4 linked regions of the Homo sapiens genome follow. The protein of the gene in region 3 interacts with the protein of the main gene of each other region in a biochemical or structural test. Each region holds a gene or a part of one and is shown on either strand. Other genes may lie near its edges. The genes, in order: NELFCD, GNA12, ARAF and IRF7.

Region 1 (7,424 bases), on a different chromosome or scaffold from region 3:
ACAAAACTGACGTCTCTCTCCTGCTTAAAGATTCCCATCTCCTTCAGGAAAAAACGCCCCAGCTCTAGCAAGAGCGTGCCCTTCCCACTTCCCCTGTCCGTTCTGACCTCTCACCACTCCCCATTTGCAATCTGTAGCAGGACTCATCTATTTGCATGTCTGCAGCTCTTAGTTTCCACCATCCAGACTGAACATCACGGTGGCCTCCTTACACATCTTCCTACCTCCCACTATGTAACATGGCATCAGGCGAACAGAATTTGGGTCACCAACTATCTTTTAAAATCCAGTTCTTGCCACCCTCCTAACACCTTTCCTAACTTTCTGTACCTCTTCCAAGCAGAGTCACAGAATAAACATGAAATGAACGTCTGGTCCACCCCCCTCATCCATGAGAGCCCACTGGTGTCAGTGGGCCAAATTAGGATCATGATTAAAATTCCCCAAACATGAGACTCCCCAATCTCCCATCAGTGGGGTCTAGGTCTGACTGCACAAACTTGGGCAAATAACTCACGTGCTTGGTCTATAAAGTGAAGGTACTGATTAGATGGCCCTTATATGCCCCAGTTCTAACACTTTATGACTCAAAGCCTCAAGGTGAGGCCGGGCACGGTAGCTCACACCTGTAATCTCAGCACTTTGAGAGGCGGAGGCGGGCAGATTACTTGAGGCCAGGAGTTCGAGACCAGCCTGGCCAACATGGTGAAACCACATCTCTACTAAAAATACAAAAATTAGCCGGGTGTGGTGGCACCGGCCTGTAATTCCAGCTACTTGGAGAATCACTTGAACCCAGGAGGTGGAGGTTGCAGTGAGCCAAGATGGCACCACTGCACTCCAGCCTGGGTGACAGAGTGAGACTCCGTCTCAAAGAAAAAAAAAAAAAAAAAAGGCCGGGTGCGGTGGCTCACGCCTGTAATCCTAGCATTTTGGGAGGCCGGGGCAGGCGGATCACCTGAGGTCAGGAGTTCAAGACTAGCCTGGCCAACGTGGTGAAACACTGTCTCTACTAAAATACAAAAATTAGCCGGACATGATGGCGGATGCCTGTAATCCCAGCTACTCAGGAGGCTGAGACGGGAGAATTGCTTGAACCCAGGAGATGGCAGTTGCAGCGAGCTGAGATCAAGCCACTGCACTCCAGCCTGAGCAGCTAAGCGAGACTCTGTCTCAAAAAAAAAAAAAAAGAAAAAAAGGCTCAAGGTGATATACTAGATGCCCCAAACACCAACCTACCACTAAGCTAATTCACACCTTCTCATCTGGACCACTTTGGTAGTCAGCAATTTGACGAAGTGGCAACGGAGGCAAAGGATGTGGGTTTGGGTCCCCTCTCCTTCCTTTATTAGTTTCATGACCTTGGGCAGGTCAGTAAGTCTTTTCGTCTCATTTTCTACACTTACCAGATAAGTAGGGTAACACCCAACTCAAAATCCTGTGTGTGGAAGGGGATAACGCATGACACACATGGCCCAAGCTCTCAGTTAGCTAAGTCTGACTCTATCCACTCCACCCTAAGCCTCCAACACTGTGAAATGATCCAACATGCAAATCTACTCGTGTCACTCCCTGCCCCAAACTCCTGAACAAGCCATACCATTCAGCAGCTCTCCAAGGATCTTCAGAACCTGCTCCCTACTGACCTCCTGCCACTGCTTCCACCAGGCAGCTAACATCACAGGGCTTCTTTCAGTTCCAGAAACACATCGCCCGCCTTGGCATTTTAGACCATGGCTCCGAAGCCGCCATCACACCACCACCCATGTTTATCAACGTAAGCCCCACTTCATCCTTTATTCCCTTATAATACCACTTCAAAATGCACCAGACATCCCCAATCTTGATTGTTGTTAAAAATGCAAGTTCCTGGGCCACGAGCAGTGGCTCACGCCTGTAATCCCAGTACTTTGGGAGGCAGAGGTGGGTGGATCACCTGAGGTCAAGAGTTTGAGACCAGCCTGGCCAACAAGGTGAAACCCCCTCTCTACTCAAAATTTTAAAAATTAGCTGGGCATGGTGGTGGGTGCCTGTAATCCCAGCTATTCGGGAGGCTGAGGCAGGAGAATCGCTTGAATCCGAGAGGCAGACGTTGCAGTGAGCCGCGATGGCGCCATTACACTCCAGCCTGGGCAACAAGAGCGAAACTCCACCACAAAAAAAAAAAAAAAAAAAAAAAAAAAAAAAAATGCAAGTTCCCAGGCTCCCGTCCAGACCAACTGTTGGGCCGTCTCCAGGGGAGGGACGTGAGAAGCTACATTTCAATCATGCGCCTCAGTTGGGTCTTTAGAGTAAGGTGGGGACACACTGTCCAGACTAGAGCTACCTGCCCTGGCTCTGCAGTCCCTGTCCTCAGGGTGGAACAGTGATCCCTCCTGGGCTTCCACCCCAAACCCTGGAAGGTCAAGGCCCGAAAATCCTTTCCATCAGTTTGCCCAAAAACAGATGAAATCAGCCCAAGGTGCTGAAGAGTACAGTTTATAAAACAGTAAAGCACATGTAGGAATGCCCTAAGTTCTACTTTTTCCTCATGATGCTGCTGTGAAGTTTTTCCACTTTATTTTTGTTTAAAAGTCTGTGAGCTCCGGACCCAACCCTCCACCTTAGCGTTGGTGTCCCGCCCGCCGCGGGGGTCGCAGGGCCGGCGCCGGGCCTGGCCGGAGCGAGGGGGTACTGGGGGCCTCGGGCCGCCCCGCGCCAGAGCCTCCGGCGCCTCACCCCCACCCCAAGGTCCTGCAGGCGAGGAGGCGGGGACCCCGGCGGCCGCGCCGCGGGACCCCGGGCGGGCGGGGGCGGGGCGGGCTGTGCTTGAACCACACGGTGACCGCGCGGGCCGTGCGCGCGCACACCCCCCGCACGCCCGCAGCCTCGCGCCGCGCGGCCTCTCCGGGAGTGGGGCCGGCCCGCCGGCGGCGGAGACGAACGATTCTCTCTAGGGTGCGCCCAGTGCCCCGCCTCACCTGGCCGCCGTCAGCCTCGTCGCCCCACTCGGCCGCGCTCCCGTAGTAGTCCTCGTCCATGATGGCGCCCGGCACGGCCCCCGCCATGCCCTCCCGCGAGCGAGCGCGGCGCATGCGCGAGGCGGGGACGGGCGGGCGGGCGCACGCGCGGCCGCGCGCCTCGGCCCGGGCGGGAGGCGGGGCCTGGAAGAAGGGGCGGGGCCTGGAGGAAGGGCAGGGCCGCGGGCTCGGCACTGGGAACAAAGGGGACCGGCGGAAGGAACGCCCCCAGTCGATCCCGGAGCGATGCCCGGGTGGACCAGGGGCTTAGCTCCGGAGAGAGGTTTCCCACTGGATTCGTGCACAGCCCCTCCCCTGCGGCGCCGGCTCTGCGAGCCCCAGTTTCCTCATCTGGCAGCTGGAAACAAATCCTTCCGGAAGTGTCCAGGACCCACGAAAGTGTTTTAATTTCTTTTAGTTTTGGTAAAAAGTACTAAACGCGACCGGGCGTGGGGGCTCACGCCTGTAATCCCAGCACTTTGGGAGACCGAGGCTGACGGATCACTTGAGGTCAGGAGTTCGAGGCCAGTCTGGCCAACATGGTGAAACCCCGTCTCTGCTCAAAATACAAAAATTAGCCGGGCGTGGTGGCATGCGCCTGTAATCCCAGGTACTCGGGTGACTGAGGCAGGAGAATCGCTTGAACCCGGGAGGCGGAGGTTGCAGTGAGCCAAGATCGCACCATTGCACTCCAGCCTGAGCGACAGAGCGAGACCCTATCTCAAATAAATAAATACATACATAAAAAGGGCAGGGCACGGTGGCTCACGCCTGTAATCCCAACACTTTGGGAGGCCGAGGCGGGCGGATCACCTGAGGTCAGGAGTTCGAGACCAGCCTGGTCAACATGGTAAAACCCCTTCTCTACTAATAACACAAAAATTAGCTGGGCATGGTGGCGGGCGCCTGTAGTCTCAGCTACTCAAGAGGCTGAGTCACGAGAACCGCTTGAACCCAGGAGGTGGAGGTTGCAGTGAGCCAAGATCACACCACCGCACTCCAGCCTAGGCAACAGAGTGAAACTGTGTCAAAAAAAAAAAAAAAAAGAAAAAGAAAAAGAAAGAAAGAAGAAAGAAAGAAAAGAAAAGAAAAAAGAAAAGAGAAGAAAAAGTACTGAATGCAGTGGAAAGTAGCATTTTTAATTTTTTATAAAGTGGAAGATAGGCCCACAAAGCAAAAGTGCCCAGAGCTGACAAAAATCTCTGGAGAAAGGACCTCTCTGGTCGTTGCCAAAGGGAGCAGCTGACGCTGTTGTAAAGCCCGCAGCTCGATTCCCAGCGTGAAGTAGGGGGTGAGAATATGACAGCCTCCTGATGATCACGGAAAGGTTTTTGTTTGGTTGTTGTGTTTTTGTTTTGTTTTAATTTTAGATTCGGTGCGTGTGCAGGTTTGTTACATTGGTATATTGCGTGATGCTTCTAATCCTTTCGGCAACTTTTTCAGCCTTTACCCCCCTCCACACCTTCTGCCTTTTGGAATACCCCATGTCTGTTGTTCCCATCTTTGTGTCCAAATCACAGAAAATTTTAAACAGGGAGATTAACGCCATAAAATCTGGATGCTTTGAAAGGTAACGCCCGTGGCTGAGCGCCGCGGCTCACACCTGTAATCCCAGCACTTTGGGAGGCCAAGGTGGGAGGATTGCTTGAGGCAAGAGTTTGAGACCAACCTGGGCAACATAGCGAGACACCGCCCCCCCCCTTCCCCCGCCCCCAGCCAGGTATGGTGATGCACGCCTGTAGTCCTAGCTGCTCGGGAGGCTGAGGCAGGAGGATTGCTTCAGCCCAGGAGTTTGAGGTTACAGTTTGCTATGGTCGTGCCATTGCATTTCAGCCTGTGTGACAAAGTGAGACCCTGTCTATAAAGAAAAAAAAGAAAGGTAATGCCCATGTCAGTAAGGAAAGAGTATTAGAGAAAAGAGCTCCAGAAGATTGATAATAGTGACTACTTTTGGAGAACTTATCAGGGAATATGTCTTCATTTATTCAACAAATGTTTATTGAGTGTTCCCTAAGTGCCCAGCACTGCGCTGCTCCCTGGAGCTCGGTGAACAAGTTGGACCTGATCCTTGTCCGGGTAGAGCCTACATTCTACTGAAGGAGCTGAATGGGGGGAGGGGGTGGGGGGAACAAATAAGATAAAGACAGAAGGTGATCAGTGCTAGTATTCTGTGATAATAGAATCTTCTTGGGGAGATCAGAGATGGCTGCTGAGCAGCTTACATTTGAACTGAGTCATGTCATGAAAGGGGCAAGCTAGCTAAGACCCAGGCAAGAGCATTTCCAGAGAGCAGAACTGCCAGGGCAAAGGCCAGGCATGCGTACTTGGAACAGAAAGGCCACTGAGAGCGGCACCTGGCAGGCCAAGGAGAAATCTAGATGAGGTGGGCAAGGCAGGGAGGGCCAGATCTTGGGAGGGAGTTAGGTCTGTATTAACTGAGGGCCATCTCTAAGGATTGAATGTAATGAGGTATGCCAAGCACTGAGCAGAGAGCTTGCACATGGTAGGTGCTCAGCAAGTATGCATCATTATGAGGAAGATGAAACGTTTGGATTTTTTTTTTCTTGCTCTGAGCGGGTGAAAGGACATATCTGAATTTTCAAAGGCATTTCTCCTAGCTGAGGGGGCCTTACAGAAGGAAGTGAGAAGGTGAGAATGTAAATTAAGAAGCTTCCGTGAGCATTAATGGAGGGGGTTGCTGAGAAGGAGCTGTGGCTAACTGCTGTGAAGTTGGGGTCAAGTCCAGAGGATACAACAGCCTTGGGGGTGGGAGATGGGGGCCAGGAACAGGGGCAGGGAAGATGCTGCTGTGACCCCCAGCTTGTGTGCCTGGGGATGGCCCATGGCTGAGACAGGGAACCCAGGAGGAGGGCAGGTTTCTCCATGGGATGATAATGAGTTCATTGGGTTGTGCTGAGTTAGAGGTGCCAACAGAACACCCATGCGGAGATGTCCTGCAGGTGGTTGGAGGTGGAAGTCTGCAGCTCCGATTCAAAGGATCCAGCTCCAGCTTCTATTCACAAGATTAAAGTGTATTAAGTTAATGAGTGCCCCTGCTGTTGGCTTGTTTCAGGGTTCATTTTCACTTGCTTTCTCAAAATGTTGGAAAGAATAGATGGCTGTTAAACTCCTCCTACCTCTCCTCTTAGATTTTTTAAAAAATAGTGCCAGAATTGAAAGCGGACCAATTAATGTATGTATAACTAATTGTGCCTACGGAATTGGGGATTATTCAGCTCACTTCTCCTTCAACCAACAGGTTGGTTAATCCATTTATTGTTAAATGGATTAACAACCCGTAATGAAACCATTACATTCAGCCTATAAGTCACAATGATTTAAAAGTAATTGGGTCAGCCGGGCGCAGTGGCTCAGGCCCGTAATCCCAGCACTTTGGGAGGCCGAGGCGGGTGGATCACGAGGTCAGGAGATCGAGACCATCCTGGCTAACACGGTGAAACCCCGTCTCTACTAAAAATACAAAAAAATTAGCCGGGCATGGTGGCAGGCGCCTGTAGTCCCAGCTACTCAGGAGGCTGAGGCAGGAGAATAGTGTGAACCTGGGAGGTGGAGCTTGCAGTGAGCCGAGATCATGCCACTGCACTCCAGCCTGGGTGACAGAGCGAAACTCTGTCTCAAAAAAAAAAAAAAAAAAAAAAGTAGTTGGGTCTATAGGTCTTGCCTCCTGAGATATTGTGGATCTGTTGTTTTTTCCAAAGCCTTGTCTAGATTGTCCAGATTAGCTTGCATTGCTTAAATACTCCTAAAGTCATTTAAGTTCTAAAGTCATTTTCCTGTTTAAGAAGAATTCTGGGCCGGGTGCGGTGGCTCATACCTATAATCCCAGCACTTTGGGAGGCCAACACAGGCAGATCACTTGAGGTCAGGAGTTTGAGACCAGCCTGGCCAACATGGTGAAACCCCGTCTCTTCTAAAAATACAAAAATTAGCCAGGTGTGGTGGCGGGTGCCTGTAGTCCCAGCTACTTGGGAGGCTGAGGCAGGAGAATCGCTTGAACTTGGGAGGCAGAGGTTGCAGTGAAGTGAGATCACACCACTGTACTCCAGCCTGGGTGACAGAGCAAGACTCTGTCCCCTGACCCCCACCAAAAAAAAAGAAGAAAAAGAAGAATTCTGGTGGAGAATTTTTATGAAAATTAGAAGTTGGTTTCACTTAATCCATTGAGGAAATACTTACTGAGTGCCTACTAGGTGTCAGGTGCTGGGATATAGCTGAATCAGAGACACAATTCATCTGGTGCTAATGGCAAAAAAGGAGAAAAGAGAAGCTATCTCTAACAATTTTTTTTAAAAAATGCAGCGACCTCAGAAAGAGGTCAAGAAGTCCTTTCCAGGGAAATTATGTTTAAGCTGAGACTTGTGACTTCAATCTGGAGGACAAAGAGAATAGGGTACAGTGGAGAAA
Region 2 (7,121 bases), on a different chromosome or scaffold from region 3:
GCTCTGGATTCTAACACACACAGGAGACACAGCGAAAGCTGACCCAGAAGGCAAACAAAGCTCACCACGCTCCGGACCGGGCTGCGCGTCACTGTTGCAGACTGCAAATGGGACCTGAGACCACCCCGAGGGCCCCACCAGGAGCTCTCTTTCTCCTTTAAAACGTGGTCATCGGCACTCATCTCCGGTCACATCCGTGAGGTCTGTGAAGAGCCACAGAAGCAGTACAAAAACAGCGACTTCTTTATCCAGCCAAAAAAGGAGCCACAAGCCCAGCAAACACTGACACACAGCCTCGAGCACTGCGAGAGAGAGTTCCATGCTGTCTCCCGATGAGAACGCTGTGCTAACAGGGTGACCCAGAGGCAGGTTTCCCCTCCCTCTTCTGCTTCTGCATCTGCCCCAAGGGCTTGCGTTTACCGGGTTTGCGGAAAACAAGCCAAGGGTGAGCTGCAGAGGGGCTCGGGGCTCGGGGCAGCACGGCCTCGGGACGAGGGCCCTGGGATATGTGACTGAGCCACAGCAACATTCGGGTGCCAATTAAGAGGACGCTTTTCATTTTCTTGTAAATGCTAGGACACATCCCAAAACACACTAGGCAGGATTTCTCAGTAGAGTGATACACAGAGGGGACCAGCTTGGAATGCAATGTATTTTAAACACAGTGAAAGCCACCTGGCAGGTAGCTGGACAAGTGAGCTGGGCCCAGGACTGGCCAGCTCGTATCAACATTCACAGGCTCCCGCGGGCTCCCCCAGGACAGCGGCATCCGAGAGTGTTTACTCTTCTGCAAGCACAGTCATAGAAGCGAGGGGCCTCGATGAGAATCAGACTTAGGGAGAGCGGCGAACAGGCACGGCTGTCCAAAGGCACTGGTGGAGCGGCAGTTTGGAGAAACTCAAGATTCCTCCAGCGTCTGTGGGCTTCCCGAAAGGTCAGCTGTTAGCTCGCCAAGCAGCTGGGGCATTAACAAAAGCTCTGCTAGTGGCCTTGCCAGCTTTCTGAAGCCCCAGAAGAGGAATGTTTCTGAAAGAAGGAAACGCTATGTGCTGCCAACTGTGTGTGAGCAGATGACTTGCAGGAAGATGGGAGAGCCGTCTGCAAGGGGACCTGGTTTCTGTGTCTTTGCCGTTGGGTTGGGCAGTGGGTGGCTAAGGGGAGAAGAGCACCGCTGTGTGTGCACGGACGGAGCGGCAGTCACCGTGGGCATCCTGTCTCACTCCGTGTTGTGCTGCTGGGCATGGGGCAGGGTGGGAAGGGCTGAGCCTGCTGTAGGGGCGTAAGGTGAATCCACACCTGCAGAGCTCTGCAGCCCGTCCTCAGAGCTGGGAAGGGATCCTAGGCACGGCTCCTCAGCTTCATCTGAGAGGCTTGGACTAGGGGCTCTTAGGAAATCGGCACGGGAGTTTGAAAAGGCAACGTGCTCCCTTTGGGAGGTGGCCTTCAGACACTGCGGCTGGGGCTGCAGGGCCGGGCTCAGGCACTGAGTTTAGCAGCATCGGCGTGCACTGGATCTCTACAAGCTACTGTTAGGCAAAGCTTTCAGGTTAGTCTGTCTCAGGGAAGACTTGTGAGTTAGAAAAGCCGTCTGCAAGGCCAGCTGGTTTTTGTGTTTCTGTCATTAAAGACAGAGCGTGTGTACACACATACACACACAACACGGTCCTCAATTAAACTGCGTCAGAAAAAGAGGAACGTTTCTGTAAAAGCAAAGCAAGCTGTGTGATTAGGTGTTCCGTATTCACAACATCATCACTCGGATTTTCAGTAGTTTCACTCGCCCCCAGGATTCAGTAGCTAACGTGACAGTTTCCATGTCCTTTTGCCTAGAGCTCGCTGGCTGGCTGGTCTGACAGCATTCCTGAGCCAGGTATTCCAGGGCACGGATCCGAGAAACCCACTCAAGGACCACACAGACAACACACACCCAAGAGTCTGACCGACAGCCGTGGGGGCTGCTCAACGACGACAAACCCCGGGGCTTCCTCGCTCACTGCAGCATGATGTCCTTCAGGTTCTCCTGCAGGATGGTGTCTTTCACAGCATGGAACACGAAGCGGACGTTCTCGGTGTCGATGGCGGTGGTGAAGTGGTGGAAGAGTGGCTTGCTGCGGTTCCGTCTCTTCCTGTCGAAGCACTGGACCAGGTAGCGCTGGACGTCCTCCAGCCTGTGCGGGTCGCCCCTGAAGTCCGGGAAGTGCTTCTTGATGCTCACGGTCTTCACCTTCTCCACCAGGAGGTCCATCTTGTTGAGGAAGAGAATGATGGAGACGTTGAAGAAGAGCTTGTTGTTGACGATGGTCTCGAAGATGTTCATGGACTCCACCAGCCGGTTGGTGCGCCTGTCCTCCATGAGGACCTGGTCGTACTCGCTGGAGGAGACCATGAACAGGATGGACGTGATCCCGTCGAAGCACTGGAACCACTTCTGGCGCTGGGACCGCTGGCCGCCCACATCCACCATCTTAAAGGGGATCTTCTTAATAACGAAGTCATGCTCCACAATTCCCTTGGTGGCTTTCCTAGCCAGCAGGATATCTTGCTTACTAGGAAAGTAATTCTGTAAAATACAGGATGAGGCAGAAATTTAGGGGGAGGAAGAAAGAACAGAGAAAATAGAAACAAAAAGATGGCAAAAAGATAAGAAGGAAAGAGACTGACTTTTGCAACAGGTTGAACCAGAAACCAAAAGCAAATTTCATTTATAACATTATCAACTGGCCGTGAAACAGAAAGAATCAAATACTTCATTTCAAAACGAACGGAGGCTCACCAGTCTGAGGACGAATGCTCAGAACACTCGTGGGCAGGCCCAGCGCAAAACCACATCCATTTTCTTCTCCAGAGGAAATTTACCATCTTTTTTGTTTCCATACCAGAGATACCTTTTTATTTTTCTAACTCCTAAAGCTTATAGCTTCCAAAACCTTACTGTGAATTAATTTAGGTTTTGAATGTGATGTAAATTCAATCTGCAATACATTTAATGTTATTCTTAGACAATTCTTTAAGTCTTTAGCGACACACAGGCAAGCATACTCTTCACTCACTTTGACTTTGCACTATTAATAATCCTCCAGGCCAGGCACGGTGGCTCACACCTATAATCCTGGTGCTTTGGGAAGTGGGAGGAATACCTTGAGCCCAGAAGTTCAAGAACAGCCTGGGCAACATAGTAAAACCCCATATTTACAAGAAGTAAAAACATTAGCTGGGCGTGGTGCCTCATGCTATAGTCCCAGCTACTTGGGAGGCCGAGACAGGAGGATCATTTGAACCTAGGAGGTTGAGGCTACAATGAGTTACGATCGTGCCACTGTACTCCAGCCTGGGTGACAGAGTGAGACCCTGTCTCAAAAAATCGAAAAACAAAACAGAACAAAAAACCAACAAAACACCTCCCGTGATGAGTGCACACACCACTCAGGCAGCTTCTTGCCAAAACACCAAACACGGACATGATCATGCCTCGATCTAGAGGTCTGACTACCACCCACGGGGTGTGCAGGGGACAGAGAAACATCTTCAATAACACTGCAGGGGTGGAAGAGCAAAGTCCACATGGTAAGAAACCCTACAGGATAAATAATCCAGTTACTCCAATAAACAAGTTGAAAGAAAAAAAGGAGAGACATACAGATTAACACTTAAGTGATCCTGACCAATGGCAATGCATGACCTTATTAGGTTGTTGATTCAAACTCTGCTAAAACAAAGCAAAATCAACATGAAAACATTAATGAGACAACAGGGAAAATCTCTAAACTGACTAGGTTGACATTACGGAATTACTGCCAATTTTTCAGGAGCCATACGGTACTGCGGTTGTCATTTTTCGTCTTGTCTTTTTGAGGTACACTCTAAAATATTCTCTGCATTTGCTCCCGGAGGCCGGGGGAGGGCTGCTGAAACAAGACTGGTAATCAGTGATAACTGCCATGCCTGGGGTTTCATTAGACTATTTGTTTTTGAGTATGTTTGAATTTTCCATGAGATAAAGGAAGTCCTCCTTTCACTCATGAACTCCTCTGTCTGTCTCCTTTATGGTGATCTGGGCAAAGGCAGTTTCCTCCCCTCCCCACTGAGACGGGGCCCAGATCCAAGTGAGAGCGTGCCATTACAGTACTATTCGTGGTAATGTGACAGAACAAGCTCGGCCTGTCAGTCCAGCCAAAGTCCTCACAACGTGGACTGCTTTGGTCTCTGGACACGTTTTCTAACCCTGGAGCCCAGCTTCTTCGGGCGGGCGTGCTTACTCACCAGCTGGCCGATCCGGTCCAAGTTGTCCAGGAAGTACTTCACCGACTCCCCCTGTCAGGAAGGAAGAATATTCACAGCTCAGTCTGGACTGAGGAATCCTGATGTGGCAAATACAAGAACTGAACAGGGTAAGAGCAGTGGCATTTCGCCTCCGTGTGAATGGGAAAGCAAAGGAAAAAGGCAGAGAGTGTCCGTGTGTTTTCTAAAATAAAAAAACTACCATTAAAGAAAATGTTTAATGCAGGTTCTTTAGCTCCAACCCCAAGGTTCAAATTCTGGCTGTTTTTCAATTTTCGCTGCTGGGTTTTGGTGTGTGGTGCGATGCAGGCCCCTCTGATGGGGGACTCTCTTTCCAGACATGAAGGCTGGCCCACTCCTGGCCATGCGGCCAGCAAAGGACAGGCTAGAATAGGATTTTAGATTTTGGCTCCTGGGTACAGTCTTGCTTCTGTCGAAGATGGCCTAAGGGACCCAAGACATTGTCCTTAAAGACAAAACATCCTGACGAAAAGGAGCATCTAGCAAAACATCTTCCAGTTTCTAGAAAGAGTCCATTATTCCTTCCCACATTTTTATGACCTGATTTATAGTAGCAAACACAGGGGAATCTTCCATTTGGATTGTTGTGGTGGAATGATGGCCAGTCTTCTCCTGCCTGGACCAATCATCGATACAATCTGAGACGTGTTCCATAGTGCGAAGGGCCCTGCGGAATCACCCAGGACCCCGTTTCAGGAAGCGCTGAGCCGCCAAATGCGAGGCACACACGGGGCACGGGAGGAGCCGGGAGAGCGCAACCACCGACCACAGAGCAGCCCGCATATGAACAGGCACGCAATGAGTCCCTTCAAAGGTAGCGTATTAAAAACCAATTATACCACTTTCTATAAGATTCCACTTTGAACCCTGCTCTAAAGACAGACACCAGCAGGCGGGGTCAAGGCTTCCAGGCTGCCCTGACATCAGGGCTTGTGGGAAGAGCAGTCACTTTCTGTGTTCTCATGGAAATGTACAGGGGCAAGGTCATACACATGTGGCGAGCTGACGCAGGAGAATTTTAAGGAGAGAAGGCCATCAGAATGGACTACGTGATGGCGCTGAAGCTCGTGGCGTTGTAAGGGATGGAGAAAGGCGGCCAGCACCTGCTCAGTCTATCTCTTCCTCCTCTGTCCCAGACAGACTGAGGGGAGAAAGCAGAGAGGAAGCTCCTTCAGGGAGGAGCCCACCTTCCTACTTTAGAACGAAGGCCTCTGGATGTTTTCAAAGTGAGTGTTTTGTTTGAGGGGACAGAAACACACGTCTCCCCATCCCAGCACTGCCTGTGTTGAGCGAGCACACATCCTCCTCCTCTGTGGCAGGACGGGGCGAGCACGTGCACCTCGTGACCACCGGCTCTCTAGAGCCCCAGGCAGAGGCCCAGCTCTGCAGTAGGGAAGGCATCGGGAGTGCCAGGGTGAACGTACCCCAAGGGCCCGGCACGACTGACCTCTCGTGCCTGCTCTCTCCCTTCCTCGCCAAGCCCCCGTGATGTGGGAAGCCAGCGTGAGGCCGGTGGGGCAGCCGCCTTCCCGTGGCTGTGCCAAGTCCCCCCGGTCCTCTGCACATCATGCCTCCTTCCACACCCTGACAGGAAGCAGCTGGGAGAAGCCGTTGGGTGCACTCACTCCCTGATTTACGACAAGTTCCTTCCTCAGCGCCTCTCTCTCCTGCCTCCTCCTGCTCTCCTGCCCTCCCCTGGGCCTCGGGAGGTGCCACGCAAGCCCAAGAAGCATCAGCATACTGTCCCTCCCTCTCCTGTGGCCACGGGCTCCCCCAGGGAGCTGAGAGTAGCAGCAGCTCACAGCCCAAGCCACCCTTGCCCGTTTCTAGGCAGGTGGTGGCACCAGGCACGAAGGAAGCAGAGGCAGTTCTCCTGCAGGGTTCTAGCTGGGTCAGGCATGGAGAGTCACAGTGGCACAGATGCCCCAGCCAGTGCTCTTATCACCACAGGACACAAAGCCCTGGACACACGTGCTCCGCCCAGATAGTACGGACGCAAGGGGAAAAGCACCACAGAGGGCACAATCAGGACAAGCTCGATGGGAAGCAGAAAACAGGAGGGACGTTTCCCTCGGTGTGAGTCTAAACACCCCTCGAGTCTGCAATCAGTCCCCCAGCTGCACTTCACAACACAGCAAACACTCACTGCTGCTTTCTCCACGATGACTGAATGAGGATGGCTCATTTAACTCATCACAGCATTTGTATCACTACTTGGAATGCAGGAAAACTTATCTGTGACTCTCGGTCATCTTGCATGAGTGGCGGAGGAGAGGAGTCAAATCTAGTTTCATGTCAGGGCGGCCTCATCTCGAGAAACAGCCCAGGGGGTCCGTGGGAAAGCTGCCACTGAACTGTAAGGTGCCAGGGACTGTGCCACAAGCTCTCTAATGGGGGCTGGAGGGGAGGGAAGAAGGGGACACAGAGCAACCCTGTGTGATCCAGAACGCTGTCACTCACATCCGCACTCTTGCTGTCCCTGAGGTTTGGTGCACTGCGGTTCACCAACAGAGACTGGACAATGCACCTGCTGATTGGGCACGCAGCCCACGGGACGATCGTTTGCGACGGACTCCTCAAGTCTTACAGCAGCAGCTCATTAAAAGGGCCAGGTTTACAATCCCATGCATTTTCAACACTAAGAGAATTCAGTCATTTCTTTAGAGAAAATGCATGTGGCAGAAACTGAGATGTCCACATGAAATTAACCGCTTGGTGGGTTTATAAAGAGGCACTGTGCCTGCCAAGACGAGCCCAGAGTCCTCTCAACGGCTGCTGCGGTCACACGATCTAGAAACACGAGTGGATCCAAAGTGGGCTCT
Region 3 (7,121 bases):
AAACCATGGAGAGTGAAACCACAGATAAGGGAGGACTACTGTAGTTCAAGTAATCTATGAGTTCATCCATCTTTTGTTTTGTTACTTCATTGGTTTATTGGCCTGTAAGGTCAGCAACTCATTCTCCCCTGGCCCCCAAGTCCTCACCCTGGTCCATCACTTCTGCCCAGATTTCATCTATTTTGTCCTTTCACGATGTCATGACTTCATCAGGTCTCTTCTTCCTCATTTTCCCCATTCTCTGTCTGCTGAGTTGGGTCTTGCTGACTTTATTTATTCCTCTCTCGTGGGTTTCCTTAATTTATGATGCAGTTCACACACTGCACTTTATTTGTTGTTTCAGTGCCTCCTCAGCCCCCTTTTCAGGGGCTGGCTTAGCGCTTCTAAGATGTAGTTGTTTAGTTTCATTTGCTTCTCCCCTTCCGTTTCAGAGCATGGACTCTTCACACCGTCATGCCTCTCATTACCCTTGTGGCCCAGGGCCAGTCACTTTATCCCTCTGAGCCTGTTTCCCCATCTGTAAAGTTGGGGCAAGGATAGTGACTAATTTCTAGAGTTGCTGTGATGAGAATTAAACATGCCAGACATGACCCTGTGGGTAGCAGGCTTGGAGGGACTTGTGGGGGTTCCCTGCCTCCCCATGGCCCCTACCCAACCTCCCACTCATTCCTTTCCATGCCCCCTGCAGACGAAAGACGGTCACTGCCTGGGACACAGCCATTGCTCCCCTGGATGGCGAGGAGCTCATTGTCGAGGTCCTTGAAGATGTCCCGCTGACCATGCACAATTTTGTGAGTGCAGGGTGGACGGTGGGGGTGGACCATGGTTGGGGGTGTCCTTGACCAGGTCTCAAACTTCCCTGCTCTGTGGCATCAGGTACGGAAGACCTTCTTCAGCCTGGCGTTCTGTGACTTCTGCCTTAAGTTTCTGTTCCATGGCTTCCGTTGCCAAACCTGTGGCTACAAGTTCCACCAGCATTGTTCCTCCAAGGTCCCCACAGTCTGTGTTGACATGAGTACCAACCGCCAACAGTGAGCCCAGCCTGGGGTGGGTGGGGGGATGGGGAGCACAGAGGCCCAGCCACGAGGCCCTTACAGACAGCTGACCCGTGTCCCCTTGCTTTATACCCTTCATGCCCTCAAGGTTCTACCACAGTGTCCAGGATTTGTCCGGAGGCTCCAGACAGCATGAGGCTCCCTCGAACCGCCCCCTGAATGAGTTGCTAACCCCCCAGGGTCCCAGGTAGGGATGCCTTAGCTGAAGAGCTGCTGGGGGAGAAAAAGATCTTGGGGCTCTTGTAGACCACGAGCCATACTTTATTCATTTGTTTACTTGACAAACATTTATTGAGCACCTACAAGTGTGAGTAAGGGCATGAAACTGGGACCTTGGGCAAGTCACCTCATTTCTCTGGGCCTCAGTTTTCTCATCTGTAAAGAGGGGATGATGATACTTTCTACCATATAAAGGTTCTGGTGAGGCTTAAATGAGTTAAGACATGTTCAGTGCCTAGAACAGGATCTGGTACAGTGTAAATAATCAATTTTTTTGTTATTAATTATAAATATATTTATAAGCATCTAACTACTTTGCTAATTCTAGTATAATCATACTCAAGCCTTTCCATTTTGAAATACGTATTATTTTATCATAAATTACTTCCCTTTTATTGCTTTTTTATGTTAAATATTATATAAAACTATAGCTATATTAAAATATATTATTGCTCTAATATATATTTTATGATGTGCATATTTTATGGTATATTTATGTTATTGTATCATGTTGTATTACATAATTTTATATAATGTAGAACATCATACATGTTTATATGATACATAAAATAAAGTTAGGGTATTATTTTAAATTATGAGTGTATGTGCATTAATTACCTTTGAGTTTCATTTCAGGATAGTGAAGGGAACATTAACATATTTTTGTAACTTTACAATATGTTTAGCATATATCATATGTATAACATGTATGTATAACAATATGGTAATATGTATATTTTAAAACATTGCCATTTTTATATAGATGATACATATTATATAACATTTGAAAAGTACATGTAATTATAATATATAATTATAAAATATGATACATTACCCTTTCCCCACTATCTGTGTGGCCTGCTATCCTGCCTTTAGGCGTTTACTCCATTGTCATCTCCTCCTCAGAGAAACCTTTCCTGACACTTTCTAGGAACACTTTGTGTCTCCTTATTTTGCTTTACTATTTTTCTTTATTGCACCTATCACCATCAGGCATATTATATATTTGTTTTTTATTTCAGCCCCACCAGGGCAAGAACTGTTATTTTGTTTTACAGTTTTATCTCCACCACCTAGAATGGTATCTGGCACACAGCAGGCACTCAATAAATGTTTCTTGAAGCAATGAATAATAGTACTGCCAGTGGACATTCGCTCTGTGTGAGCCAAATGCATGTTTATGGCTGGGGGTGGGGTGGGGGGCTTTCTCGGTTCTCTGATTCCTGGCAGTGATTTCACAGCCTTTCCCCTGGCAGCCCCCGCACCCAGCACTGTGACCCGGAGCACTTCCCCTTCCCTGCCCCAGCCAATGCCCCCCTACAGCGCATCCGCTCCACGTCCACTCCCAACGTCCATATGGTCAGCACCACGGCCCCCATGGACTCCAACCTCATCCAGGTTGGTGCTGTGGGGGACAATGCCGGGGACCACAGGGCAGAGGGTAGAGCCATCCCTGTTGGCCTCCATGCCCTCTTTTTGACTCCTGTCCCTCTTCTTCTAGCTCACTGGCCAGAGTTTCAGCACTGATGGTGAGTCCCCTGTGCCTGCACCCTGACCCCCGCTGCCCCACTTACCTCCACTCACATCCTCTCTGCAACTGCAGCTGCCGGTAGTAGAGGAGGTAGTGATGGAACCCCCCGGGGGAGCCCCAGCCCAGCCAGCGTGTCCTCGGGGAGGAAGTCCCCACATTCCAAGTCACCAGCAGAGCAGCGCGAGCGGAAGTCCTTGGCCGATGACAAGAAGAAAGTGGTATGCTCGAGGGGGATCCTTTTGGGGCCACCAAGGCTGAGTGACGTGGGATGAGGGATGTGGGCAGGCCTCTTAGATGCCACCCATCTGGCCCACAGAAGAACCTGGGGTACCGGGACTCAGGCTATTACTGGGAGGTACCACCCAGTGAGGTGCAGCTGCTGAAGAGGATCGGGACGGGCTCGTTTGGCACCGTGTTTCGAGGGCGGTGGCATGGCGATGTGGCCGTGAAGGTGCTCAAGGTGTCCCAGCCCACAGCTGAGCAGGCCCAGGCTTTCAAGAATGAGATGCAGGTGCTCAGGTGAGGTGGCATGTGTGCGTGGATGGGGGTGGCAGGCCCGGCCTTGGCATCTCTCTGGGAAAAGGCCATGCTTGGAGTGCTTCCTGGACATCACCTGTGTTTGTGTTGTTAAACCATCATCAGAAGTTGTTTCTCTCTGAAGGGTGTCCCTTTCCCCTCTGGGAAATGAGTATGTTTAGAGGACCTGTGATCATGCAGTTGTTTGTGTTTGGGTTATTAATGAATGGTTCTGCCTCCAAAATGTGGGTCTTCTCATTTGCCTGCTGCGAACTGGGTCTGTGTGTGGGCCACCATTCTTGTTACTGCATTGCCAGGAAGGCTTCCATCTTTCCTTCCCCTCTGCTTGGGCTACAATGGTAATGTTCTGTTTATAGTGTTGGTTCTTGTTATTCATTAATTCTAATACCTTGATTTAAACAATATTATCATCATCACCATAATCTAATCATTGCTTAATTATTATAATTGCTGTAATATGTAATCAATACAGTATTCATCTAGTCACGCTAAGAAAGCCAGGTGTCTCCTTTTTGCTGCTATAGTTACTATGTAGCATAGTACTGTATACCTATATACTACAGGTAGTACTGGATAGCGTCTACCAACCCTGGGGATGTTGGCATTGGCTTTTCCTCTGTGTCAGATGGGCACAATTATGTTACAGAGAATAAGGTAGCTAATGCAATGATCAGTTTTACAGTTGAGGAACATGAGGCCCAGAGAGGTTAAATGTCTTTCCCAAGGTTGTACCTTGAGTACCTGGTGAGGCCTAGATTTGAACATGAGTCCAGACTCCAAGCTCTTTACCTCTAAGCTTCTCATGCTGCTGAACAGGCTCTAATCATCATATATCACCAATGTTTTAATCCTGCATCTATCCATATTATATTGATACATCAGTGAGGAAGGTTGGCATTCTGCTTTCTCATCTGTGAGATGGTCACAGACCCAGGTAATGGTCAGAGTCAGAGGGGTGGGGGATGTTAATGATTAGAAATGCTGCTGTAGGCAGGGAGGGGGAGGGGCAGCAATTCCTCCCTCCTGCTTTTGTTGGGAGACTCGGATGGGGAAGCTCCACATATGAGCCCACAGCACAGAATCATAGCCCAGTAAACACATCTCACAAATTCATGGAATCTGGCAATGCTTTGGTCCTGAGTGCCCCAAAAGACAGGGTGAAAATAAATGACCGAGGAAGGTAAAGAACAGTGCCACTCCTGATGCTCGGTAAGTGACAGTTGCTATTTTTCCTCCCCACCTCTGACACTGCCCTCCCTGCCTGCAGGAAGACGCGACATGTCAACATCTTGCTGTTTATGGGCTTCATGACCCGGCCGGGATTTGCCATCATCACACAGTGGTGTGAGGGCTCCAGCCTCTACCATCACCTGCATGTGGCCGACACACGCTTCGACATGGTCCAGCTCATCGACGTGGCCCGGCAGACTGCCCAGGGCATGGAGTGAGCCTCCCAGCCTGGGGAGGGGTGGGGGGAAAGGGTGGGGGAAATGAGGTAACCCCCAGCCAATCCGCCACCTGCCTCCACCCCCACAGCTACCTCCATGCCAAGAACATCATCCACCGAGATCTCAAGTCTAACAGTATCTATCTGTCCCTGGGCTGGGGTTGAGTGGGGGTGTCAAGGGCTTAGAAGGATGCCTCTTGTGGGGGTTCTGGGAATTACAAGGGAGGGGCATGTGTCCCAGAGCTCCTTGCCAGGTGGCAGAGCTGTGGCCAGCCAGGGGGCTTTAATGGCAGTCTCTTAGAAGTCAGAGGTGTGGCTGGTTCAGGTACTATTCTTGGGGACTCTGGTTAGAGTCTGATGTCTGACAGTTGTGGAGGGCATTATGGTCAACATCAGAGGCATAGTGGGTTCGGATGCCCTCCGAGGGGCTTCCTGTTCAGGAGTCACAGCGGGGCTGAGTGTGGGGGGCATTAGCAGGCGTTCCCTGCCCACGTCAAGGTTGTGGATAGTTTGCGTGATATTAAGGGGCTCCTGGTCAGGATCAGAGGGATGAGTGGTATAGGGGCACCAATGGGAACCTCCCAGGCAGGGTGAGAGGCATGGCTATTAGGAGTCCCTGTAGTGGTCCTTGACCCTGGCGGACATCTTCCTACATGAGGGGCTCACGGTGAAGATCGGTGACTTTGGCTTGGCCACAGTGAAGACTCGATGGAGCGGGGCCCAGCCCTTGGAGCAGCCCTCAGGATCTGTGCTGTGGATGGTGAGTTGGGCCAGGCTGGATGGGGGGCACATGGGGACGTGGGCTCCGGGATTGGGGTGTGTGGGGCCAAGTGGGGACGGGGATGCCTGTGCCAGATGTGGGTGTCTGGACTCCTCATGTCCCACCTCGTGTGGGTGGCTCTGAGTTGTACCCTGTGTGGCCAGTGGGATCTGGGACTGTGGACCAGCCATTTGCTGACCTCCGTGGTCCCCCTGCCTGGTCTGGCCTGTTGTAGGCAGCTGAGGTGATCCGTATGCAGGACCCGAACCCCTACAGCTTCCAGTCAGACGTCTATGCCTACGGGGTTGTGCTCTACGAGCTTATGACTGGCTCACTGCCTTACAGCCACATTGGCTGCCGTGACCAGGTGAGCCCCACACCTTACCCACAGTTCCCTGGGCTGAGGGATCCCCTCAGGCATCCATACCCCACATCCCCTCCTTTGCACTGATAAATGCCACACTTTCCCCAGAAACCTAAAATTTTCTAGGATAAGGACTCCCAGAATCCCTTGGGCTCCAGACACTTACAATAAATTCTCTGGGTCTCCCCTACCCCAACTTCCCTCTTCTCACATCCACAGCCCTCTGGGACAAAAATCTTTGAAGTCCAAAATGCCCCGAATCTCTATACCTAGAATCCCCTGAGGCCCCCAAATACCCCAAAGCCCTCTGTATCCCTAGACGCCTATAGTCGTCTGCTCTGGGTACTCAAAATCCCCCAGATCCTCAAAGCCCAGATCTCATTTCTCCCAGCATCCCATTTTTCCCCAGAAACAGAACCCCTTTGTGCTTCTGGAATAGTCATGGACACCCACAGTCACCTAGGCCTTGGGTATCTAGCAGGCCCCAGGGCCGGGATACCTAGAACCCTCTAGGCCCCAGACCCCCACAGAAGTACAAGCTCCCCCAGACCCAGAACTCCATGTTTTCCCGAGACTCAGTACTTTCCAGGTCCCTAAGCCTCCTAGAAACCCGTGGGCCTATAATCCTCTGAGCCCCAGATACCTACAATCCTTGACAACCCCAAATTTAAATCCCTCTGTTCTGAAAGCAGAGAATCCTCCCAAGTCCTCAAGGACAGAGAATCCTCTGGGCCTTGATACTGACAGTACCCCAGCTCGCTAAAAATGAACCTTCCAAGTCCCTCAATACAAAATTCCTTGGGCCTCCCAGCCCCTGACCCCAGATCACCCCTTTCCTGCCCCCGTCTGCCCCCAGATTATCTTTATGGTGGGCCGTGGCTATCTGTCCCCGGACCTCAGCAAAATCTCCAGCAACTGCCCCAAGGCCATGCGGCGCCTGCTGTCTGACTGCCTCAAGTTCCAGCGGGAGGAGCGGCCCCTCTTCCCCCAGGTGGGCTGGGTAGGGGGCTGGACACCTTGGGTGGGTGACTCTGGGATAGAGGAAGACTGAGATGGAGGCAGATGTGAATATGAAAGCTCAGAGGTATAGTGTGTGTGTGTGTGTGTGTGTGTGTGTGTGTTTCACCATGAGGCTGGGACTGTTGGGGGTGTGTGTGTATGTGTGTTTCGCCATGAGGCTGGGACTGTTGGGTGTGTGTGTGTGTGTG
Region 4 (8,077 bases), on a different chromosome or scaffold from region 3:
ACACAGGGACGGCCAGGATCAGGAGAGGAAGGGCGGGGTCGGGGTCAGGGGGTGGGGCCGATTTCGGTCGTGATTTTGAAACAAATGCAGACTCTCCTTGTAAACCAACCCTTCCCATCTTGAGCGGTGAGGGAGCAAACCCTGAACACACAGGGAGGAGCGTGGGCCCCAGAGCCAGGCGGTCTCAGGGGCCTGGGGAGGTGGGCTGGGGCCCTGGAGCTCTTAAGGGATGCTGACATCTCTGCCCTGCTCACAGTCACCACTGGGCCCACACAGGCTGTCTGCAAACCTTCCTGGCACCAAGGCACCTGGGGCCACCAAACAGTACATGGGAGGCAGAAATGCAGACCCCGGGAGCCCCCACTTCCTAAATGTTTGCTTACCCGTCAAGACAAGCCTTGTGCAAATGGGACTCAGTATCTTTGGGCCACTGGACTCATTCATTAGTAAGGGACCCACAGGGGTGTTACTGATTGTGATGCTGGGACAAGGGACTGTCCTAGGCAGGCAGGGACGCCCGGCCACCAGCGGGACTGGGCCCCTCCTCAGCCAACCCTGCCCTTGATGGGGAGTCAGAGGGGCCAGGCTGGGGCCATCCACCCCAGCCCCACGACGTGCCCTCCCTTCCGCCATCCCTGAAGCCATCTCCCCTCGTCCTGCGTCCCGGACCCATCTACGCTGAGGACGGAGACCGCGGCATCAACCAGCCCATCATCTACAGCATCTTTAGGGGTGAGTGGGGCCCAGCCCTCAACAATGCCCTGTACCCCCTCTGTCCCTGTCTCCATCCCCACCTTGGGCAGAGCTGGCTGGGTCCCTGGGCCTCAGGGGGCCGGGGCTGAGCACTTCCATCATCCTCCCAGGAAACGTGAATGGTACATTCATCATCCACCCAGACTCGGGCAACCTCACCGTGGCCAGGAGTGTCCCCAGCCCCATGACCTTCCTTCTGCTGGTGAAGGTGAGGTGGGCACCTGCATGGGGGGCAGGGCAGAGGGGGAAGGGTGGAAGGTAGGGCGGGGGGTCAGGGCTGGGGGGCCGGGGCAGGGCCCCCGCCAAGTCTGCACCTGCCTTTCCTGAGCCCCAGCCTTCAGCGCCAGCTCCACCTTCAACCCCACTAGTCACTGCTGCCTCCCCCGCCTCCAGGGCCAACAGGCCGACCTTGCCCGCTACTCAGTGACCCAGGTCACCGTGGAGGCTGTGGCTGCGGCCGGGAGCCCGCCCCGCTTCCCCCAGAGACTGTATCGTGGCACCGTGGCGCGTGGCGCTGGAGCGGGCGTTGTGGTCAAGGATGCAGCTGCCCCTTCTCAGCCTCTGAGGATCCAGGCTCAGGACCCGGAGTTCTCGGTAGAGAGTGCATCCAAGGCCTCCCCTCTGTGGGTGGGTCAGGGCTGTACGTGGGAGGCAGCCTGGCCGGGGACTCAATGAGACCCTGTCCAGGACCTCAACTCGGCCATCACATATCGAATTACCAACCACTCACACTTCCGGATGGAGGGAGAGGTTGTGCTGACCACCACCACACTGGCACAGGCGGGAGCCTTCTACGCAGAGGTGCGGGGCAGGGCAGGCGGGCATCTCCAAGGGTGTGGGGCTTAAAGATGTGTCTAGGAGGGACAAGCCCCTTCCTGCCCCAGGTTGAGGCCCACAACACGGTGACCTCTGGCACCGCAACCACAGTCATTGAGATACAAGTTTCCGAACAGGAGCCCCCCTCCACAGGTAAGCCCCCCTCCACAGGTGAGCCCCCAGGGTTCTCCAAATAAGCCCCTTCGGTGGCTCCTTTCCCGCGGTAGGTGTGCAAGGGGCGGGCAGAGGCAAGCCCAAGCACTGTTCCCGGCCCCCAGATGTCCCCCCATCCCCAGAGGCTGGAGGAACAACTGGGCCCTGGACCAGCACCACTTCCGAGGTCCCCAGACCCCCTGAGCCCTCCCAGGGACCCTCCACGACCAGCTCTGGGGGAGGCACAGGCCCTCATCCACCCTCTGGCACAACTCTGAGGCCACCAACCTCGTCCACACCCGGGGGGCCCCCGGGTGCAGAAAACAGCACCTCCCACCAACCAGCCACTCCCGGTGGGGACACAGCACAGACCCCAAAGCCAGGAACCTCTCAGCCGATGCCCCCCGGTGTGGGAACCAGCACCTCCCACCAACCAGCCACACCCAGTGGGGGCACAGCACAGACCCCAGAGCCAGGAACCTCTCAGCCGATGCCCCCCAGTATGGGAACCAGCACCTCCCACCAACCAGCCACACCCGGTGGGGGCACAGCACAGACCCCAGAGGCAGGAACCTCTCAGCCGATGCCCCCCGGTATGGGAACCAGCACCTCCCACCAACCAACCACACCCGGTGGGGGCACAGCACAGACCCCAGAGCCAGGAACCTCTCAGCCGATGCCCCTCAGCAAGAGCACCCCATCTTCAGGTAGCACCCACTCTGTTGCCTTCCCTCCCTGACTCCGGTCATTGGCTGGTATGGGAAACGCTGTAGGAAGGGTCCACCCCAGGCTGACCTGGCCTGACCATGAAATCCCAAAGAGGAGTCTGTTTGGGACTGACAGACACAGACAGGCCCAAGGCCCCCAGTGAGGTAACCTGTGATGTGTGTAGGACAGAGGCCAGATGTGGGGTCCAGCGAATCCCACGATTCCCACGGCTGCCGCTCACCCTGCAAGTCCCTGCACCTCTTGTGAGCTCCTGTGAGCAGCTTGGCCTCCCGGGGGGGAGGGGGTGGGCAGGGTCTCGATGGGACACACAGGCCCCTTGAGCCAGGGTCAGCAGAGCCTGAGATTTGGGAGACAGCCCAGGCCTGGGTGGAACCCAAGTGTCCCAAGCCTGGCACAGGTTGGCATGGGAAATGCCTGGGGCACTCAACAGTGCGGGGATGATGACGTTTTCCACTGCGATGCCAGGTGGCGGCCCCTCGGAGGACAAGCGCTTCTCGGTGGTGGATATGGCGGCCCTGGGCGGGGTGCTGGGTGCGCTGCTGCTGCTGGCTCTCCTTGGCCTCGCCGTCCTTGTCCACAAGCACTATGGCCCCCGGCTCAAGTGCTGCTGTGGCAAAGCTCCGGTGAGGCCCAGGATGGAGAACAGGGCAGGCGACCAGGCAGGAAGTGGGGGACGGGGGACAGGAGAGGGGAGGGCAGAGGGACAGATGTGGAGACGGAGGGGTGTCCAGCGTGGAATGAGGGTGTGCAGGGCCAAGGCTGCAGAGACCCAGGGACCCCGCTGACGCCTCGACTCCCGCCTGCAGGAGCCCCAGCCCCAAGGCTTTGACAACCAGGCGTTCCTCCCTGACCACAAGGCCAACTGGGCGCCCGTCCCCAGCCCCACGCACGACCCCAAGCCCGCGGAGGCACCGATGCCCGCAGAGCCCGCACCCCCCGGCCCTGCCTCCCCAGGCGGTGCCCCTGAGCCCCCCGCAGCGGCCCGAGCTGGCGGAAGCCCCACGGCGGTGAGGTCCATCCTGACCAAGGAGCGGCGGCCGGAGGGCGGGTACAAGGCTGTCTGGTTTGGCGAGGACATCGGGACGGAGGCAGACGTGGTCGTTCTCAACGCGCCCACCCTGGACGTGGATGGCGCCAGTGACTCCGGCAGCGGCGATGAGGGCGAGGGCGCGGGGAGGGGTGGGGGTCCCTACGATGCGCCCGGTGGTGATGACTCCTACATCTAAGTGGCCCCTCCACCCTCTCCCCCAGCCGCACGGGCACTGGAGGTCTCGCTCCCCCAGCCTCCGACCCGAGGCAGAATAAAGCAAGGCTCCCGAAACCCAGGCCATGGCGTGGGGCAGGCGCGCGGGTCCATGGGGGTCCCATTCACTCAGTCCCCTGTCGTCATTAGCGCTTGAGCCCAGGTGTGCAGATGAGGCGGTGGGTCTGGCCACGCTGTCCCCACCCCAAGGCTGCAGCACTTCCCGTAAACCACCTGCAGTGCCCGCCGCCTTCCCGAGGCTCTGTGCCAGCTAGTCTGGGAAGTTCCTCTCCCGCTCTAACCACAGCCCGAGGGGGGCTCCCCTCCCCCGACCTGCACCGGAGATCTCAGGCACCCGGCTCATCTCAGACCTCCCGCTCCCGACCCTACACAGAGATTGCCTGGGGAGGCTGAGGAGCCGATGCAAACCCCCAAGGCGACGCACTTGGGAGCCGGTGGTCTCAAACACCTGCCGGGGGTCCTAGTCCCCTTCTGAAATCTACATGCTTGGGTTGGAGCGCAGCAGTAAACACCCTGCCCAGTGACCTGGACTGAGGCGCGCTGGGGGTGGGTGCGCCGTGTGGCCTGAGCAGGAGCCAGACCAGGAGGCCTAGGGGTGAGAGACACATTCCCCTCGCTGCTCCCAAAGCCAGAGCCCAGGCTGGGCGCCCATGCCCAGAACCATCAAGGGATCCCTTGCGGCTTGTCAGCACTTTCCCTAATGGAAATACACCATTAATTCCTTTCCAAATGTTTTAATTGTGAGAGTATCTGATATTCTTGACTGAACAATGTAAAAAACCCAAAGGGGGCTGCGCACGGCGGCTCTCGCCTAAATCCCAGCACTTTGGGAGGCCGAGGTGGGCAGATCACCTGAGGTCGGGAGTTCGACACCAGCCTGACCAACATAGAGAAACCCCGTCTCTACTAAAAATACAAAATTAGCCGGGCGTGGTGGTTCATGCCTGTAATCCCAGCTACTCGGGAGGCTTAGGTAGGAGAATCACTTGAACCCGGGAGGCGGAGGTTGTGGTGGGCCAAGATTGTGCCACCGCACTCCAGCCTGGGTAACAAAAGCGAAACTCCATCTCAAAAAAAGAAACGCAAACGGTGCAGCTGCCCCTTTTTCGAGGCACGTCCACCTCCCATTACCCACTTCCTTTTTTTTTTGAGACTGAGTCTTGCTCTGTCCCCTGGGCTGTAGTGGAGTGGCTCCATCTCGGCTCACTGCAGCCACTCCCAACGCCCTCCACTCCTCCCTACTCCGCGCTGGCCGGGGCGGGGTTCCGCTGGTCGCATCCAATAATAAGAACAGGCGGCGCGCGCCCTTCCCGGAAACTCCCGCCTGGCCACCATAAAAGCGCCGGCCCTCCGCTTCCCCGCGAGACGAAACTTCCCGTCCCGGCGGCTCTGGCACCCAGGTACTGGGGACCCCAGACCCACGCGGTGCAGGCCGGGAGCGAGAGCCTCCGTGGGGGCTCCGTGACCCCGGAGGGGTAGAGCCAAGAGCTGGGGGAGCCTGAGAGATGAGGGTCGGGCGGGGAGGGAGGCGGAGGCGGAGGCGGGGTTCCGCGGAGCTGAGAACCGGACGGGGTGGGATCGAGGAGGGTGCGAAGCGCCACTGTTTAGGTTTCGCTTTCCCGGGAGCCTGACCCGCCCCTGACGTCGCCTTTCCCGTCTCCGCAGGGTCCGGCCTGCGCCTTCCCGCCAGGCCTGGACACTGGTTCAACACCTGTGACTTCATGTGTGCGCGCCGGCCACACCTGCAGTCACACCTGTAGCCCCCTCTGCCAAGAGATCCATACCGAGGCAGCGTCGGTGGCTACAAGCCCTCAGTCCACACCTGTGGACACCTGTGACACCTGGCCACACGACCTGTGGCCGCGGCCTGGCGTCTGCTGCGACAGGAGCCCTTACCTCCCCTGTTATAACACCTGACCGCCACCTAACTGCCCCTGCAGAAGGAGCAATGGCCTTGGCTCCTGAGAGGTAAGAGCCCGGCCCACCCTCTCCAGATGCCAGTCCCCGAGCGCCCTGCAGCCGGCCCTGACTCTCCGCGGCCGGGCACCCGCAGGGCAGCCCCACGCGTGCTGTTCGGAGAGTGGCTCCTTGGAGAGATCAGCAGCGGCTGCTATGAGGGGCTGCAGTGGCTGGACGAGGCCCGCACCTGTTTCCGCGTGCCCTGGAAGCACTTCGCGCGCAAGGACCTGAGCGAGGCCGACGCGCGCATCTTCAAGGTGGGGACCCCAGCCCCGCCCCGCCCCGGGTGGGAGAGCCCGCCTAGGACCCCGCGGGCCCGGCACACGTGTTCTGTCCCCCTCTTCAGGCCTGGGCTGTGGCCCGCGGCAGGTGGCCGCCTAGCAGCAGGGGAGGTGGCCCGCCCCCCGAGGCTGAGACTGCGGAGCGCGCCGGCTGGAAAACCAACTTCCGCTGCGCACTGCGCAGCACGCGTCGCTTCGTGATGCTGCGGGATAACTCGGGGGACCCGGCCGACCCGCACAAGGTGTACGCGCTCAGCCGGGAGCTGTGCTGGCGAGGTGAGCGACGCCGGCTGCCAAGGGCGTTGGCATTCGTCCTGCTTGGGCAAAGGGGAACATTCTCTGGGTCAGATTTGTGGTTTTAGAAGCTGTTCTGGGAGAGGCTGCCAGCAGGCCCAGGACAGGTGGAGAGCCACATCCCCACCTCCTCAGGCCACAGCCTAAGGGTTCACAGCCAGGAAGCTGGTGGGGGCTACACCAGGCTCTCCTTGTATCTCTCACTCTGGTGTCGGGGCCTAACGCCTGCCCCATTCTCTCTCAGAAGGCCCAGGCACGGACCAGACTGAGGCAGAGGCCCCCGCAGCTGTCCCACCACCACAGGTACCCTTCTCTCTGCCTGCCTCTCCTCCTGCCAGGCCGCGGAGCTGCTTACGTTCACCCTGACTTTTCCCTGCAGGGTGGGCCCCCAGGGCCATTCCTGGCACACACACATGCTGGACTCCAAGCCCCAGGCCCCCTCCCTGCCCCAGCTGGTGACAAGGGGGACCTCCTGCTCCAGGCAGTGCAACAGAGCTGCCTGGCAGACCATCTGCTGACAGCGTCATGGGGGGCAGATCCAGTCCCAACCAAGGCTCCTGGAGAGGGACAAGAAGGGCTTCCCCTGACTGGGGCCTGTGCTGGAGGTGTGGGCGTGCCCGGGGAGGGGGGGAGCGCGGGAGGGGCCAGTGCACCTGGACGGACACTTTAGAAGGGGGCTGGGGATTGGGGAGCTGGAGAATTAGGAGGGGACCACCGTTCCCACTGTCCTCCCCTCCTCAGGCCCAGGGCTCCCTGCTGGGGAGCTGTACGGGTGGGCAGTAGAGACGACCCCCAGCCCCGGGCCCCAGCCCGCGGCACTAACGACAGGTGAGAGGGGTAGGGGTTGGGAGGCCTGGGGCACAGGGAGAGGCTAGGGATGAGGTGCCAGCACAGGATTCCCTTCCGGATGCAGGCGAGGCCGCGGCCCCAGAGTCCCCGCACCAGGCAGAGCCGTACCTGTCACCCTCCCCAAGCGCCTGCACCGCGGTGCAAGGTGAGTGCATCCCAGGAAGGGGCAGCCTGTCCCCGCCCACCCCCGTCACTCACGGCTTGTCCCCGCCCACCCATCACTCACATCCTGTCCCCGCCCACCCCCGTCACTCACATCCTGTCCCCGCCCACCCCCGTCACTCACAGCCTGTCCCCGCCCACCCCCGTCACTCACAGCTTGGTCTCCACACAGAGCCCAGCCCAGGGGCGCTGGACGTGACCATCATGTACAAGGGCCGCACGGTGCTGCAGAAGGTGGTGGGACACCCGAGCTGCACGTTCCTATACGGCCCCCCAGACCCAGCTGTCCGGGCCACAGACCCCCAGCAGGTAGCATTCCCCAGCCCTGCCGAGCTCCCGGACCAGAAGCAGCTGCGCTACACGGAGGAACTGCTGCGGCACGTGGCCCCTGGGTTGCACCTGGAGCTTCGGGGGCCACAGCTGTGGGCCCGGCGCATGGGCAAGTGCAAGGTGTACTGGGAGGTGGGCGGACCCCCAGGCTCCGCCAGCCCCTCCACCCCAGCCTGCCTGCTGCCTCGGAACTGTGACACCCCCATCTTCGACTTCAGAGTCTTCTTCCAAGGTCAGTGAGGCCCTTGCCTGGGGGGCTGTCTCCAGGGGTCCTTGGGAGCACCTGCCTGCCAGGTACTCAGCAGAGTCCCCTTCTTCAGAGCTGGTGGAATTCCGGGCACGGCAGCGCCGTGGCTCCCCACGCTATACCATCTACCTGGGCTTCGGGCAGGACCTGTCAGCTGGGAGGCCCAAGGAGAAGAGCCTGGTCCTGGTGAAGGTGAGACCAGAGCCTCAAGGAGGGGAGGCCATGTGCTCAGGCCCACTG

Evidence for each region.
Region 1: the proteins of ARAF (region 3) and NELFCD form a complex in vitro, tested with the Homo sapiens proteins (one study listed by BioGRID).
Region 2: the proteins of ARAF (region 3) and GNA12 form a complex in vitro, tested with the Homo sapiens proteins (2 studies listed by BioGRID).
Region 4: the proteins of ARAF (region 3) and IRF7 form a complex in vitro, tested with the Homo sapiens proteins (one study listed by BioGRID).

What each region holds. Positions count from the first base shown.
Region 1 is NC_000020.11:58,976,906-58,984,329, reverse strand, and holds the start of NELFCD (negative elongation factor C/D), read right to left. Parts: upstream 3,021-7,424; coding exon 2,961-3,020; intron 1-2,960. UniProt on the Homo sapiens protein: Essential component of the NELF complex, a complex that negatively regulates the elongation of transcription by RNA polymerase II.
Region 2 is NC_000007.14:2,729,191-2,736,311, forward strand, and holds part of GNA12 (guanine nucleotide-binding protein subunit alpha-12), read right to left. Parts: intron 4,493-7,121; exon of another isoform or gene 4,312-4,492; coding exon 4,261-4,311; exon of another isoform or gene 2,561-4,260; coding exon 1,991-2,560; 3' UTR 1,854-1,990; coding exon of another isoform or gene 1,831-1,853; 3' UTR 1-1,830. UniProt on the Homo sapiens protein: Guanine nucleotide-binding proteins (G proteins) are involved as modulators or transducers in various transmembrane signaling systems. Activates effector molecule RhoA by binding and activating RhoGEFs (ARHGEF12/LARG).
Region 3 is NC_000023.11:47,564,109-47,571,229, forward strand, and holds part of ARAF (serine/threonine-protein kinase A-Raf), read left to right. Parts: intron 1-688; coding exon 689-791; intron 792-876; coding exon 877-1,031; intron 1,032-1,134; coding exon of another isoform or gene 1,135-1,143; coding exon 1,144-1,242; coding exon of another isoform or gene 1,243-1,246; exon of another isoform or gene 1,247-1,867; intron 1,868-2,530; coding exon 2,531-2,672; intron 2,673-2,775; coding exon 2,776-2,803; intron 2,804-2,877; coding exon 2,878-3,023; intron 3,024-3,121; coding exon 3,122-3,324; intron 3,325-4,609; coding exon 4,610-4,786; intron 4,787-4,878; coding exon 4,879-4,925; intron 4,926-5,430; coding exon 5,431-5,549; intron 5,550-5,784; coding exon 5,785-5,916; intron 5,917-6,769; coding exon 6,770-6,904; intron 6,905-7,121. UniProt on the Homo sapiens protein: Involved in the transduction of mitogenic signals from the cell membrane to the nucleus. May also regulate the TOR signaling cascade. Phosphorylates PFKFB2.
Region 4 is NC_000011.10:612,951-621,027, reverse strand, and holds the start of IRF7 (interferon regulatory factor 7), read left to right. Parts: upstream 1-5,077; 5' UTR 5,078-5,115; intron 5,116-5,380; 5' UTR 5,381-5,663; coding exon 5,664-5,683; exon of another isoform or gene 5,684-5,709; coding exon of another isoform or gene 5,710-5,768; coding exon 5,769-5,931; intron 5,932-6,020; coding exon 6,021-6,231; intron 6,232-6,493; coding exon 6,494-6,552; intron 6,553-6,628; coding exon 6,629-6,854; intron 6,855-6,990; coding exon 6,991-7,077; intron 7,078-7,162; coding exon 7,163-7,243; intron 7,244-7,432; coding exon 7,433-7,822; intron 7,823-7,910; coding exon 7,911-8,029; intron 8,030-8,077. Other genes in the region: CDHR5 (cadherin-related family member 5 isoform 1 precursor), read left to right, coding at 642-732, 864-961, 1,147-1,347, 1,441-1,554, 1,638-1,722, 1,848-2,429, 2,917-3,074, 3,258-3,677.